2 separate regions of the Homo sapiens genome follow, and region 1 is linked to region 2. Evidence: fine-mapped expression QTL. Tissue or cell type: whole blood. Region 2 holds a variant in brackets; the other region holds the start of a gene. All regions are shown on one strand. Distances are between the middles of the regions.

Region 1 (8,112 bases), 51 kb after region 2:
CCAGCCTAAGCAACGTAGCAAGGCCTCGTCTCTACAAAACATTAAAAAAAGAATTTGCCTGGTGTGGTGATGCACGCCTGTAAGTCCCAGCTACTGGGGAGGTGGAGGCAGGAAGATCACTTGAGCCAGGAGGTTGAGGCTGTAGTGAACCATGATTGCACCACTGCCCACAGCTCAGGCAACAAAGTGAGACCCTGTCTCAACAAATAATAATTAATTTAAAAAAATTTCTTTTGAGATGGAGATTCACTCTTGTCACCCAGGCTGGAGTGCAATGGTGTGATCTCAGCTCACTCCAACCTCTGCCTCCTAGGCTCAAGCAATTCTCCTGCCTCAGCCTCCAGAGTAGCTGGGATTACAGGTGCACGCCACCATGTCCAGCAAATTTTTTGTATTTTTGGTAGAGACGGGGATTTCACCATGTTGGCCAAGCTGGTCTTGAACTCATACCCTTAGGTGATCAATCCACCTGCTTCGGCCTCCCTAAAGTGCTGGGATTACAGGCATGAACCACCAAGCCCGGCCTAATTGAAATTTTTAAATACAACAGTTAATAAAAGCTTCTATTCCTCAGAAAAGCAAGCATATAAGCATGCAGAGAAATTTTTGCATATAGTTTTAGAGATTTTACTAACTTCTTAAAGTCTATCTATTGCATTCCATGTTTAAAATTGCAGCTGCAATTGACTGTTTTCAGCTGGGAACATTTTCCCAATGGATAAGATGCTACAAGGGCATAAGCATGAGTGGTCAAGTAAAGCTGATATAAAACACTTTGTTACAGCATGATCCTCAGACCGTTTTCTCATATTTCTATTTGTCCAGGAAAAAGGGGCCAACAGAGAGATGATGTGAGTTATGAAGTCTTCAATACAGTATTTCAAATGAGGAAGAAAACAACAGCCAACTTGAGTCGCTTACAAATAGTATCTGTATATAGTGTCTGTTCATGTCCTTTGCCCACTTTTAATGGGCATGTTTTATTTCTATAAATGTCTAATCTTCTTATGTAACCTTCCAACTCATAGGATAATAGCATAGCAATTTTGCCTGAAGACCTACTACTCATCTGTGCTGAAATATCATGTGTAGTAAAAATGTATTTGAGAGTCATTTTGGCCATCTTTCTCTACTATAAAGAACGGGTGCCTATAAAATGCTTCATTAATGGAATGGTTGTCTTGAAAAGGCACACAAACAGACGGTGTACCCAGTTCATGACAGCTACCTTCTGACAGGGCTCCCTTCTGACCCCAACACACCCACATGCAACCCCATGCATTCACTCAACAGCTGAGCTGTCTTACAAAGTACCCACTCCCTTTCAAGACGACAACTGAGTTCATCAGAAAGATGAATCAAATGTGAAAACTACAAATGTTTCAGCCAGAAAATCATGCAAAGCAGAATGATTTTGATTCTGAACAATTTGCACTCTACAGAAATACCAAAAGAAATCCTGAAACCATATTGCAAGTGAAATGCTTGTGAACCAAAAGGATCAGTAAATGTTGGCCATTTACTGAGGAAGCAGTTGGAGGCTTCATCCCTCGCGTTCTTTAAGAATACTTCAAAAACAAGCTCAGCACTCTGCCGTTGTCCTCCCTAAAAGCAAAAATCTGCAACAAGTGGCTCAGCGTTGCTTTTCTTTCCAGTCCTGCGATTCCAAAAATCCTGGCATTTACAGGCCATTTTATCCTTCTTAAAAATGTAAAATTTAAAAGAATGTGATGAACGTTTTTAAATTCTAGAAAAACTATGTCACTAAAGTGAATTCATTTTAGTTCCTTATTTGCCAATTAAAATGTGTTAATTGACTTAAGTTTTTCTAAAATGGAATAAGTCGCAGGAGCCCATTTTTCCAATTATTCTAGCCATTCTTTTGTCTTCCAATACATACACATAGTATCTGAAAGGATGTTCACCAAATGTCACCAAACGTTGTGTGTGTGTGGTAGAATTTTTAAATATTTTTTCCTGTACCATCATGTATCACTTGATTTTGTATAATAAGCATGTATCATTTCTTTTAATGCTTTTAAAATGATGCTTTTAAAAAAGCATCATTTCTTTTAAAATCCAATGGAACTCTACACATTAGAAGTTATGGAAAACCAGGGCCGGGTGCGGTGGCTCATGCCTATAATCCCAGCACTTTGGGAGGCCGAGGTGGGTGGATCACAAAGTCAGAAGTTCAAGATCTGCCTGGCCAACATGGTAAAACCCCGTCTCTACTAAAAACTACAAAGATTAGCCGGGCGTGGTGGCACGCACCTGTGGTCCCGGCTACTCGGGAGGCTGAGGCAGAAGAATCGCTTGAACCCGGGAGGTGGAGGTTGCAGTGAGCCACGATCACATCACTGCACTCCAGCCTGGGCGACAGGGCGAGACTCTGTCTCAAAAAAAAAAAAAAGAAGTTATGGAAAATTGGCTGGGCAGGGTGGCTCATGCCTGTAATCCCAGCACTTTGGGAGGCCAAGGCAGGCAGATCATGAGGTCAGGAGTTCAAGACCAGCCTGGCCAACATGGTGAAACCCCGTCTCTACTAAAAATACAAAAAATTAGCTGGGCATGGTGGTGCGCACCTGTAATCCTAGCTACTCGGGAGGCTGAGGCAGGAGAATCGCTTGAACCCAGGAGGCGGAGGTTGCAGTGAGTCAAGATTGCGCCATTGCACTCCAGCCTGGGTGACAGAGCAAAACTCCATCTTGAGAAAAAAAAAAAAAGAAGTTATGGGAAACCATCATATAACAGTACTAGAAGAGACTATTTCTCCCCAGTGCTCTCAGATCTCACCACCAGTTTTTCCTGGCCCTGGTCCTGCTATGACACAAGAAATCTTTTGCTCAAGGATAAGTCCTATAAATCAAAACTCCCACACATGGACATAAAATGAGACAGTGGCCAAATCTATGGGGTTGATAAGTCACTGCCACTCAGACATGCCTGAAATAATTAGAGAAGCATTAATTTCATTGTAGATTCTGGTGAGAGAATTTAGAAAAAGGCAGTGCAGCCCGGCCCTTGCACATGCTAAAGGTAAATGTTTTCTTCCTTGGTAAGTCTGGGTCCAGGCGAACAGGAACCAGAGCTGACCATAACTTTGATGACCAGGAACCGTCCACATCCACAGAACACTGGTTGCCACCACTCGCCAAACAAGTCTCTCTAGTTCCCTCATTTGCTCTATTTTTATCACTTGTCTCTTTTGTCTTTTTCTCATATCTGAGATGTAAGTGACTGTCGGCACTCTTTCTAAGCACTCTCCAAGCTTCCCTGAGGCTTGGAGGCTCATTTTTCCAGCTCGTGCACAGTGAAATAAAAAATATTCAGAGACTCTTCCCTGATAAGGTTTTGTTGTAAGACTGGGAGGAGCAGAGCTGGTGTGCTTTTGGGTGGCTTTATTTGTAATTGGAAAAGATTGGCCTTCATGGATGGTTAATCTATACCCAGGAGAGGCGTTTTCCTACTTTCTAGTTCTATAACTCACAGTCCTAAAAGGAGCAGAAGTTGATGGCATCAGGAGACCTGTGTTAAAATCCTGACTCTAAAAAGTTTATGATTGAGTCAACATACATTTGCAAAATACCACCAAGAAACCAGACTTTGGTGCTCAAAAATGGAAGACATAAACTCTGCTTTCAAGAAGCCTGCGGTCTCAGAAGGGTGTGGCAAATGCAGTATAATGGAGTGAAAGAACGGAGTGGACTTCATCCCAGGCACAGGAGGTGGCTGCGCCTGGCTAGGGGCTCCCAGCTTCCACCATGAGGTGGGATGCCAAGGTGTCTGCCCCTCTGGAGGACCTCGGCATCCAGAAGAGGCAGTTTCCTCCTAGAGGGTCACCCAACTCATGCAGGAGAATTCAGAAAATGATTGTTGAAGGAGGTAGCCCTTGAACTATAGAAGAGGTAGGGGTGAGTGACTTTCCAGGCAGGGAGGACAGCACAGACTCGGGCAGTGTCACCTATGAATTCATGTGCTCAATTACACTGTACATGCGAATCAGCTCTGGATCATTCATCCCTATGAGACCCTGATTCTTTGTCTGCAAAATGAAGACAACAACCCTTGCCTGGATACATAAAGAGTTGTGAGGATTCAATAAAGAATATAAAAGAGCTACACCAATTGGCAAGTCCTATTATTATGAAAGAGAAGTGTGGTACAGGACCTGTCAAGATTCAACCCAAGATAACAGTGCTATGTGGAGAAAGAATCTAGCCCTGGCTCTGCCACTAACCTCCCCACCACCATAGGCCTCAGCTTTCCTCATCTGTCCAATTAGTGGCTTGGAACCAGAAAGGCCAGAAGCCCTTCCTGCGCTGATATTTTATTTGTAAGTCCCCTTTAAATCCAACTGCCAGTAACTAGCACGTGGCTCCCGCCCCCAGACTGCTTCTTTATTCATTCCTAACCTTTACCTTGGCAGATGAAATATAAGATTCATCAACCACATTTGACAGCCCATGGCAGGTTTCCTGTTTTCCATCGTCCCTCTGCAGGTCACAGACACACAGAGCCCAGCCGTGGCAGGCTCAGCCGGGGTCCGGGGCTGCTAACAACGGCTACATTCCTCCCCCAGGGCCAAGGGAAATCCTGAGCGCAGGCCAGGGTTGTTTGGTTTTGAGGTGTGCTGGGATGAAAGGCACCCTGGAAGTGGAAGGTTCGGTCATTCATTAATTAATTACATCTATAATTGAGGGTTTGTTCTTAAGAGCGAGTCCTTTGAAAGTACTTTCCTTCAAACAGTGACTGCCACAAAGGCATCAGATATTCACCACCTTCTCGGCTGCCTCAGCACAGCAAGCTTTATTCTGGGACCTGAGATCCTGTTCTGAGCTGGCTTTCCCTTCTCCAGGCTCGCTCACCCTCCCTTTAGAGGTGGGGCTTATTGGGGGTGGAAAAAGGTGTGTGTATCTCTGTTGTTTAATGTCTGGTTTTTTGTTGCTGTTGTTGTTGTTTTGTTTTGGTTTTGGTTTTTGGTTTTTTTTAAGGAAATCTATACTACATCGAATATGCTTTCTTTTGGGTGGACTTTAACCTAACCCATTCCAGGTAAATGAACAATGGAAAAACTTCACGGCAAGATTAGAAAGATACCTGAGCCCAATACCCGCCTGATGTCGTGGGCCACACCTCCGGGTTACCAGGGGAAGGGAGGAAGCAAACTGTCATATTGATGTGGCTCTAAACAACAACAGTGTGCGAAGGCCCAGGGGCACTTTGGGATTGACCAAGAGGAAACACAAGTTGCACAATGATACAATCTTGTTGGTACAATTGTCAGAGAAGGGAACTCCCACAGCAAAGGCCATAAAACCATCCAGGGCAGTCTGGGGCGGCTCAGTTCTGCGGTGCCAGGGAGTGGAGCAGAGCTCAGCCCCGTCCCAAACACAGATGGGACCATGAACTCCGGACACAGCTTCAGCCAGACCCCCTCGGCCTCCTTCCATGGCGCCGGAGGTGGCTGGGGCCGGCCCAGGAGCTTCCCCAGGGCTCCCACCGTCCATGGCGGTGCGGGGGGAGCCCGCATCTCCCTGTCCTTCACCACGCGGAGCTGCCCACCCCCTGGAGGGTCTTGGGGTTCTGGAAGAAGCAGCCCCCTACTAGGCGGAAATGGGAAGGCCACCATGCAGAATCTCAACGACCGCCTGGCCTCCTACCTGGAGAAGGTTCGCGCCCTGGAGGAGGCCAACATGAAGCTGGAAAGCCGCATCCTGAAATGGCACCAGCAGAGAGATCCTGGCAGTAAGAAAGATTATTCCCAGTATGAGGAAAACATCACACACCTGCAGGAGCAGGTAAGATGCTGGGTGACCCTGGAGATCCAGATGGGGCTGCTTTGCCAGGGGACCCTCGGGAGGAAAAATGAGTCCAGAAGACAATTTCCAGGAAAATGGCATCAGCGCTTGAAGTAATTGTGCACAAAGGTTTTGGGGGATGTTTTCTTATTATATCTTAAATTTGGAGTGGGAAACGTCTGTTTTGTTTAATTAGTCTACTGTCCATGGATAATGTAGAAAAAGAAGGCAGCAAAAATGATAGAAGTGCTACAGACTGTTTCAAAAATGAGACTACTGATTTCTCACAGACCAAAAACATCTTTAAAATGTGAGGCAACCAGCTGCTGTTTAATGTCACTTATGACCCAACGATGTCATAGAAATGATAAGGGCTGGTGTTCATGCTGCATGCTCAGTGCACCAGGCATAAGAGAGTGTTTACTTTCTCATTACCTCAGTTCTGCTCCACCTCAAACTTTTTTGAACAATGTGGTTATCCATCGACAAAAGGCTGTTACACTATTTTGAAGATTATGCCTAAAAGTTGTCACCACACCAGCATATAGGTCATCATGACATCCCTAGATATTTCCGTTTGTGGGTTGCTTGCAGTAAAGTTGCTCACAGTTCTGACAATGGCATATTGCTAGAACCAATAATAATAAAATGAGCATAATTTTTAGAATCTGAGAGTTGAGATGGCTATAAAGACCTTGTTCAAAAAAAACCGAACTCTTTAACCAAACCTCAAAAAAGCTAAGCAAATACCTTCTGGGATGTCTCATAACATTAGCTAGAAGTAGAAGGAATCCAATCATCTCATAGGTTATGTTTTAAAGCTATCTAACTCCCCTCTTATATAAAGCAGTCCCAGAAAATTCCCTGTAAGACCATGATTTAACCTCCCCTAGAAAGGGTATCACAAGTTTCCAATATTTATATATATTATTTCACAATGCTCAGTCATCCTTGCTTGAATGTAGGAAGGACCAGTCAAGATAATATAAATCTGTCCTTGTAATGAACCCTAATTATTGAATAATCAACCTAATAACTGACTGTAATTACCTTAACTATATAGTGCATGGTTGTCTTTATGAAAAAAAAAAAAAAACAAGGTGACTCAACAGTCCTCATCATGTTTTTTTGTTTAATAAAGTTGCTTTGGTTGTAGAAAGGAGGAATTGAAGATTTTTGCAAATGGAGAGCAAAGGGAGACCATGACTCCCAAAAGAAATACAAGGTTAGAACCAGTCAAATAATTTATGAGCTCGCGGAAGAGATTTAAAAAAAAGAAAGGGAGGAAAGAGAGGGAAATGTTTACTGAGCACTTATTATGTACCTAGGCATCCTGCTGGATATTTAATACACATGTCAACACTATCCAAGAGTTTTCTGCAATGATGGAAATGTTCCATATTATTTTATTTGATTCTGCAAGAACCCTGTAAGGAAATGGAAGCTTGGAAAAAAGTGAAATAGCCATCCAAAGCCATCAGCAAGAAGCAGAGGTGGGATTCTAACTCAGGTCTGTTTCCAGTAGCCTCATAAATTTCACTACAGTGTAGTGCTGCCTAGCCCACCTCATATAAAAATGACACTTAGTATGAATAAAGATAATGCATTATACTTGCATCATTAACCACACATCACATACTTCATACACATTGTCTCATTTAATCCTCACAACTGTGTGGAGCAGGTATTTGTATTCTCAACTTACAGATAAGGAGACTGAGACCTAATCATTGTCTAAATCCTTTGGAACAGAATTGAGAAAAGTGAGTAGGTGCAATGGGGGGTGTGGGGAGCAACCTGCCCACCCTTCAGATGACCTGGAATTCTGGGTTCTGAGATTGAATAGGAAACTTCTTTGGCTTTGAATTTCACTCTTTTCTGGATTTTTACCTCTAACATTGTGTTTTCTCTACACTTGAAGAAAGAAACTCTTTAAAGTTGAGGTTGTCTATCTACCCCAACCTCCCTCATTTGAAGATGAGAAAACAGAGGTGCAAGGAGGTCCCACAATTACCTGGGGCTTATCCTTCCTGGACCTTGGTGAAATGCTCTGAGTGGATACAGTTCTCCCGTACCCTCACTTTAGGTATATTAAATATCACTCAAAAGGTTGATAACAAGTTGAGCTTAAAAATTAATTCAATCCTTTTGAAATCCAGAATTGGACACAGTCATAGGAGTATCATAAATAAAACACCTTGAATGATTCTCAATCGGACTATATTTGGCATTTTTGTTTACAGTCAAACATTCTGTTTTCCTCTCCCTAGTAGATCAAACATCCTGAAGCAACAATGCTGCAAGAATATGC
Region 2 (8,094 bases):
AAGTTCTCAAGTACTTACAGAAGGCACAGTTGCAAATACGCTGGCTGAAATTCCATCAGGCATAGCAAAGAGTGGCTGCTGGGTGATTAGAAGCTGAGTGGAGATACCAGAGGTCATTCACTATTAACAGACTTTGAGGTTCCAGCCTAGCCAGGGTAGAAAAAAGGATTGAAAAAGAAATTGAAGAAACTAAGAAGCCTGTGGGAAAGTACCAAGTGGTGAAATGAGGATGAAATTGGAGTCTCAGAATGAGAGGAGTTAAAGAATAGGAAATAAAAATTTGGGAGGGAATAAAAGCAAAAATTTTCGAAATTTGGTGACATTTTATTAACCCATATATTCAAGAGTCTCAATAAACACTTAGCAGGATAATTGCAATACACACACACACACACACACCACCTACACATATCATAGTCAAACTGCTGAATACCAATTAAGAAAAAAAAACAAATCAAATAGAAGGCAGCAAAGAAAAAATGGATGTCTGACTTCTTTTTAGGTAAAATGGATGTCAGAGGAAAATCAAACCTCATTTAAAAGGTCCTAAAGGAAAAAAAATTGTGAACACTACAGTCTGCAAAAACAACCTTCAAAATTAAAGAAAAAATAAAAACACTTTTAGGTGAATAAAGCTGACTTCTTTTTTAAGTGCCTGAAGATCTACACTATAAGAAACAATAAGGAAGTCCTTTTGGTTTAAGAGTAATTTTACCTCAAAGACAAAAAACAAACAAACCAGTTCAGAAATGGACAGAGAACTTGAATAGACTTTCTTCAAAGAAGATATACAAATAGCCAATCAGCACAGGCAAAGGTACTCAGCATCACTCACTAATCATTAGCAAAGTGCAAATCAAAACTACAATGAGATACTACCTCCCACCCATTAGGATGGCTGCCATAAAATAAATAAATAAATAAATAAATAAATACAAAAAACAAAACAGCCAGGTGTGGTGGCTTATGCCTATAATCCCAGCACTTTGGGAGGCCAAGGCAGGTGGATCACTTGAGGTCAGGAATTTGAGACCAGCCCAGCCAACATGGTGAAATCCCGTCTCTACTAAAAATACAAAAATTAGCTGGGCGTGGTGGTGGGCTCCTGTAATCCCAGCTACTTGGGAGGCTGAAGCAAGAGAATCACTTGAACCCAGGAGGCAGAGGCTGCACTGGGCCAAGATGGCACCACTGCACTACAGCCTGGGTGACAGAGCAAGATTCCGTCTCAAAAAACAAAAAACAAAACAAAACCCCTTATATATATATACACACATATATATGTAAAATATATAATATATACATTATATATATATAGAGAGAGAGAGAGAGAGAAATTGGAACCCTCAAGCATTGCTGGTAGGAAGGTAAAATTGTACAGTGACTGTGAAAAACAATATAGCACTTCCTCAAAAAATTAAATGTAGAATTGCCTTATGATCTTGCGCTTCCACTTCTGGGTATATACCCAAAAGAATTGAAAGCAGGGTCGCTAAAAGACATTTGTATACTTGCGTTCATAGCAGCAATAATTGCAATAGCTAAAATATGAAAACAAACAAGTGCTCATTGATAGACGGATGGATAATCAAAATATGGTACATCCATACAATGGAATATTATTCAGCCCTAAAAGGGAAGGACTTTCTGACACATGCCACAACATGAATTAACCTTGAAGATGTTGTGCTAAGTGAAGTAAGCCAGCACAAAAAGATACTATTCACTTATATGCTTTCACTTATATGAGGTAGTTAAAAGTAGTAAAAAAATCATAGAGATGAAAAGCAGAACAATGGTTGCCAGGACACAAGGGCGGGCTTCATGGGCAGTTGTTTAAAGGGAACAGAGTTTCAGTTTTAAAAGGTGAAAAGAGTTATGGAGAAGGACGGTGGTGATGCCCACACAACATTTGAATGTACTTAATACCACTGGATTGTACACTTAAAAATAGTTAAAATAGTAAATTTTATGTTACTTGTATTTTGCCACAATAAAAAAATTTTAAGAGTAATTATACAAAATGAAGTCTCAGACCTTCAGGAAGGAAAAAAACACTGAAAATGGTAAATACATGGATAAAATATGAGACTTTCTCTTTTTCCTTTTCTCGATATTCTAAAAGACAATGATTTAAAGCAAAAGCAATGGCATTGTAGGGTTTCTATATGTAGAAGTAAGCAATTTGACAATAATAGCACAAAGAACAGAAAGGGGCAAAAAGAACCCTACTGTGGTAAGGTTCTCGTATTTTACATAAAGTGCTACAGTATTAATTCCAAGTGGAGTACAAAAATGTAAAGATGCATATCATAATCCTGAGAGAACTACCCCACCCTTTAGAAAAACCATTAAAAGATATATACTTATAAAGCTAGTATAGAAAATAAAGTAGAATGTTTGATTGGCCCAAAATAAGATGAGAAATAAAAGGGAAAGGAAGCAAAAAACACATGGAAATAAAAAACAAATAGCAAGATGGTAGATTTTAAACCAACCATATCAATAATTACATTAAATATAAAGTAAGCACTCCAATAAAAAGTCAGAGGATGTCAGATTGGATTTAAAAAGAAAACCCAGCACTATGCTGTTTTAAAGTGATTCACTTTAAATATAAAAGCACAAGAAAATTGAATTATGTAGTCTGAAAAAAAGACATACCACGCAAATAGTAATGATAAGAAAGAAGTTTGGTCACTTAAATATTAGATAATTTTAAGGTGATATTTCATAATGAAAAAGGGAAAATTCATCAGGTGGTCCTATAATCCTTAAAAATATGACCCAATAACAGAGCTTCAAAATAAATAAGGCAAAAAATCACAGAAGTCAAGAGAGAAATAGATGAATCCAAAATCACATTTGGTGATTTTAATATCCCCTGTCAGGATCTGAGAGAACAAACAGATAAGAAAATTACCAAGGAGAAAGAAGATTTGAATAATAGTATCAAACAATTTTACTCAGTTACATTTACAGAATGTTACCCCCTACAATTGCAGAATATACATTCTTTTCAAATGCATAAGGAACTCTCACCAAAATAGACTATATTCTGGGCCATTAAATTTGTCTCCATAAATTCCAAAATCTAACAAAATATGTTATCTGACCACAATGGAATTAAATGAGAAATCAATCAGATACTTAGAAAAATCACCAAATATTTGAAAATCAAACAACACAGTTCTAATAACCTATGGATCAAATAATAAATACCAATACAGCTTAAGAAATATTATGAGCTGAATGATAATGAAAACAAAAGATTTTAAAAATTTATGGGATACATACAGCATTGGATTAGTAGAAAATATACAGCAAATGATTATATTAGAAAATAAGATTTACATCTTTATCACCTTCATTTATCTCTTCATCAATCACTTAAGTTTTCATTTCAACTAAATAGAAAAAGAACAATTAAAATTCAAAGTAAGGAGAAAGAAATAAATAATAAACATAATATCAGAAATCAATGAATAGAAAACGAGGAAATTAATGAAGCTAAAATTTGATTCTTTGAAAGGATTCATAAAGTACTTCTATTTAGTTATTTTTTAGTTGGCAAATAATAATTGTGTATATGTATATTTGTGGGGTACAATGTGGTGTTTTGATTTATGTATGCATTGTGGAAAGATAAATCAAGCTAAGTAACATATCCATCACCTAAGCACCTGATCATTGTTTTATGGTGAGAACATCAAAAATCTACTCTTTCAGCAACCTTGAAATAAACAATACATTAGTATTAATCTGATGAACATCAAGCCAGATTGATGGGGGAAGCATGAGATAAAACACAAATTACCAATATCTGGAATTAAATAGTGAGAATTTATAGACACTGCAGATACTAAAATTCATGATAAGGATTATTATGAACAACTTTATTTCAGTATTTTTGCAACTTAGGTGAAGTGAACAAACTCCTTGAAAAATGCAACTTTCACACAAAATGAAATAGAACAACTGAATAGCATTGTGAGGTTTCTATAAGTAGAGGTAAGCAATTTGATGTAGAGGTCAGCAAATATACATATATTTGCGTGTGTGTGTGCATGTGTGTGTGTGTGTGTGTGTGTGTGTGTGTGTGTGTGTGTGTGTTTGAAATGGAGTCTCACTCTCACCCAAGCTGGAGTGCAATGGTGTGATCTCGGCTCACCGCAACATCTGCCTTCCAGGTTTCAGCAATTCTCATGCCTCAGCCTCCCGAAAAGCTAGGACTACAGGTGTTCGCCACTATGCCCAACTAATTTTTGTATTTTTAGTAGAGACAAGCCTTCAGCATATTAGCCAGGCTGGTCTCAACCTCCTGCCCTTAAGTGATCTGCCTGCCTGGGCCTCCCAAAGTGCTGGGATTACAGGCTTGAGCCACCGCGCCCAGACATTTTTTTTCCTAGTTAAAAACAAAACACAACTTTTTCACATGGGAGACTCCTGGAAGAGGTGGCCTCACTGGACTCCATCAAACATTTAAGGAATAAATAACACTAATCTTACAGAATTTCATGAAATAAAGAGGAAACATTTCCCAATTTAATTTATGAACAGTATTACTCCATTCTCACACTGTTATAAAGAAATATCTGAGACTGGATAATTTATAAAGGAAGGAGGTGTAATTGAGTCCCAGTTCCACATGGCTGGGGAGGCCTCAGGAAACTTACAATAATGGTGGAAGGGG[A/G]AGCAGGCACTTCTTACATGGGGGCAGGTGAGAGAGAGCGTGGGAAGGAGGAACTGTCACACACTTACAAAACCATTAGATTTCCTGAGAACGAACTCACTATCACAAGAACAGTATACGGGAAACTGCCCCCATGATCCAATCATCCAGGTCCCTCCCCTAACACGTGGGGATTTGGGGTTTATAATTTGAGATGAAGTTTGGGTGGGGACGCAGAGCTAAGTCATATTGTGAACCCAGTATGTAACTTGATACCAAAACCTAACAAGATCATTAGAAGAAAAGAAATTTACAGGAAATATTTCTCAAGAACATAGATGGGGGTGGAAATCCATTTGCTAATCCTATCAACTAACTGAATAAAACAATTTACATAAAGGATAATGTAGAGTGACCAAGTTATTCAATATGATTGATCATGTTGTAGGGTCACCCAGATCATCCCTCCACTTCCTTCTTTGCCTTGGGAAACAGATTACCTTGACCACCCTGTGGCCCAGCCAGCTGTGTGTTTCCCCTGCAGCTTGAACCCGAGCTGACCCTTGAACATTCCCAGGCACTGTTAAAAGTTATTTAGGTTGTTGCCCAAAACAGTGAAAATCAACCAAGTTGCTGCACGTGGATACTAGCTCTGGCCCTGAGCCAAATTTCTTAAGGCCTCATGTAAACTCTTATAACCTGTCGCACAAATGTTAAAAGCAACAAGACAACTGCTATAGCAGAGATGCGTGCAAAGTGCTCTGGGAGGAGCCACATCTCCACATGAGGCAGTTGAACGACGTTTCAGCTGAGTCTTGACATGTGAGTTCATCCAGGAAACGAATAGCAGAAGAGCATTTGACCAAGAAAATAGTACCTACGAAGCTTGAAGGATGGCTGGAGCTTAGGGTTTGTGAGACAGAACATCAGGAAGTGAGCCCAGAAAGGTAAATTGGCACCAGGTTAGGGAAGGTCATATTTGCCAAGGTAGAAAGTTTGCATTCCATAAGTGGAAGGCGACAAAAAGCAGGTTTGTATTTTAGGAAAATGATTCTGGCAGCCTAGGTGGATGTTGTAAGGTAAGAGCATAGTATTATGCAAAATAAACTACCGTGTTGTTGTCGGTTTTTTTTTTTATCATGGCCTTTCATGATGTCTATTTCTTTTTCTCTATTCCCAATGTTCCTTTCTTCTGGTGATGATATGCTATAGAAATTGTCACGGGTGATTAGCAACTATCTGGGGCTGGTGGCATGGGGGTAAGAAGAATTTATCAAGATAGTTGTAGGTAAAGAAAGGCAGATATATTAGAGAACGTATGAAAATACGTTGCAAGGAAGCAATGGGCAGCACAGCAGAGAAGGGGCTGTCTGCAAGGAGACAAAGGCGTGCTGGAGATTTTACAGGATGGTGCTTGTACTGTGTGCTGAAGAGGGTTTGTGTGGTACTGATAACACTAAGGTTGCAGTGAGCTAAGTTACATTTTTCTATCAGCTGAAGGTCTGGTGATAGCTGGGTGCAGGAATATTGTGCAGGAGGGCTATGTGTCCTGGACCATGAAGAAGGTGAGTCTTATACATTACCTGCTTTCTTTCTTTGTTTTTTGTTTTTTGGTTTTTTTTATTTATTTATCACATTGTGCAGGTTAGTTATATATGTATACATGTGCCATACTGGTGCGCTGCACCCACTAACTTGCTTTCCTCTGGTCCTGCCAGCCTGACTTCTTTTCCCTAAGGAGGACTCCACAGAAATGAATTCTGGGTGATTTCTATATTCTACGATGGAGACTATAGCTATAGATCATTATACAACACTACCTAATTAATCAAGACCAAAATAAATAGTCCTACCTGCAGGACAATAACCAGTAACAAATAATTTACAATTAGAAATTAGTTCCAGACAGAAGGAAATATTTCTTATTTTACCTGCACTTACATGACTGCATTTTAGCTAACTGGAGCCTGTGATGGACAACCAAAACATGGGTTTTCTTCACAGATATTTTTCTTTTGACTCATTAGGTTACTGTGAAAAGATAATTTTCTTTCAGAGATTTGTAATTTTTCAGAAGTGTTTTTGAATCCTTGAACTCATATTTGTTGCAGAGCAGCGTCAATATACCATGAGACACTCTAAGAACTTTTTGCATAAGTGTTGATGTGTAAAGAGAATCACTAAATTCAAACCCAGCTCTGCCCAGGGAGTAATAAATCCTAAGAGACTATTTTAACTCACTTACATATGTTCTTCTGGTTTGGTTTGGTTTGGTTTCTACTATCAGGTACCTAGGAAGTAGCACTCAAGATTAGGAGAAAAAATAAGTTTATTCTGGATCAAAAATTTTTTAACTTTTTCAGATTAATCTGTTTTTTTCCTATAATGTTCTTAAAAATTCTAGAGACAATTTTCTCTATGCACCTTTGAAAATGAAATAAATGTAACGACTAAAACCAAGCAAAGTGAAATAGATTATCCTTCACAATGGAGGTGAAATCCAAGAGATAATTCAAAAAAATTACGTATCTCAAGTTCCTGTCTGTCAGATTTGGCACCAGAGATTTCATCCAGTGGAATTACTGATTTGGAACCTAAATAGAATTTTATTTTCCAAGTTCCAGTATTTTCAATTTTCATGAAATTCAGGCCTTCATAAATAAATAAATAGGAGAAAACAGGCTCTACATCTCAGAAGAAAAGATTCCTGTGGGTTCCTTGCCCCTACTCTGAAGTATAATCATTAAGGAATTCCCAAGGGACTAAAAGGTTATAACTTAGAATTTATATTTCACTCTTATTAGGAATACAGGTAAAATAGTATAACTTATCTAACAATAAGCAATGAGAAATGTGGAGAAGGCAAGTTTCAGGAAATCAAAGATCATAATTCCAGCTCTAACCAATTTATATTTTAGCCTGCAGAAAAACAAGTTATTCCTATCAGTTATGTAAAGTGACTTTTCCATTTGTACGCAGGTAGACATGGTTTGCACACACACACACACTTTAAACCCAATATATAGCTCACTCCTCCAGTCTTTATCAGCACATGCTCTGAGATCACAAAAAGCATTGAAAGATTACTAATCACACTGACCATTTTTATGGTGGTGGCACAAACAAATAATTGTCATTTTGTGAGCTGTAATACTAATTTTAAAAGGGGACACAAGCAATCAATCCACAGAATCAAAATCTGTGGACATATTATTTTCCTGATTTGTAATGAGTTGTATCTATAATTATTCATTGGCCAAATTTTCTCTTTCTTTTATTATTCTGTCAAAAGCACAATGCTTCCTATGACGATTTTCTGAAATAAGTGTTTTGTCTTGCACATGGAAATGGTGTGGGTCCTGCTTTGGTAACCTAAAGTTATCCCTATTTTATGAGGCATAAAACTCTTCCTCAGTAAATAA

The links. PIP is the estimated chance that this variant, and not a neighbour inherited with it, causes the effect.
Region 1: KRT23 starts here. The variant in region 2 is fine-mapped to the expression of KRT23 in whole blood (TOPMed, PIP above 0.99).

What each region holds. Positions count from the first base shown.
Region 1 is chr17:40,933,897-40,942,008 of GRCh38, reverse strand. KRT23 (keratin 23) reads left to right here and starts at 4,363. Exons shown (of 9, transcript NM_015515.5): 1 at 4,363-4,663; 2 at 5,056-5,801. The coding sequence starts at 5,406. The region is part of intron 1 of LOC107985072 (a long non-coding RNA gene); the gene reads right to left.
Region 2 is chr17:40,984,447-40,992,540 of GRCh38, reverse strand. It overlaps a transcript of KRT40 not described here. Among named protein-coding and RNA genes, the nearest start is that of KRT40, 4.2 kb to the right of the region's middle. The variant A/G (reference allele first, on the strand shown) is at 4,694.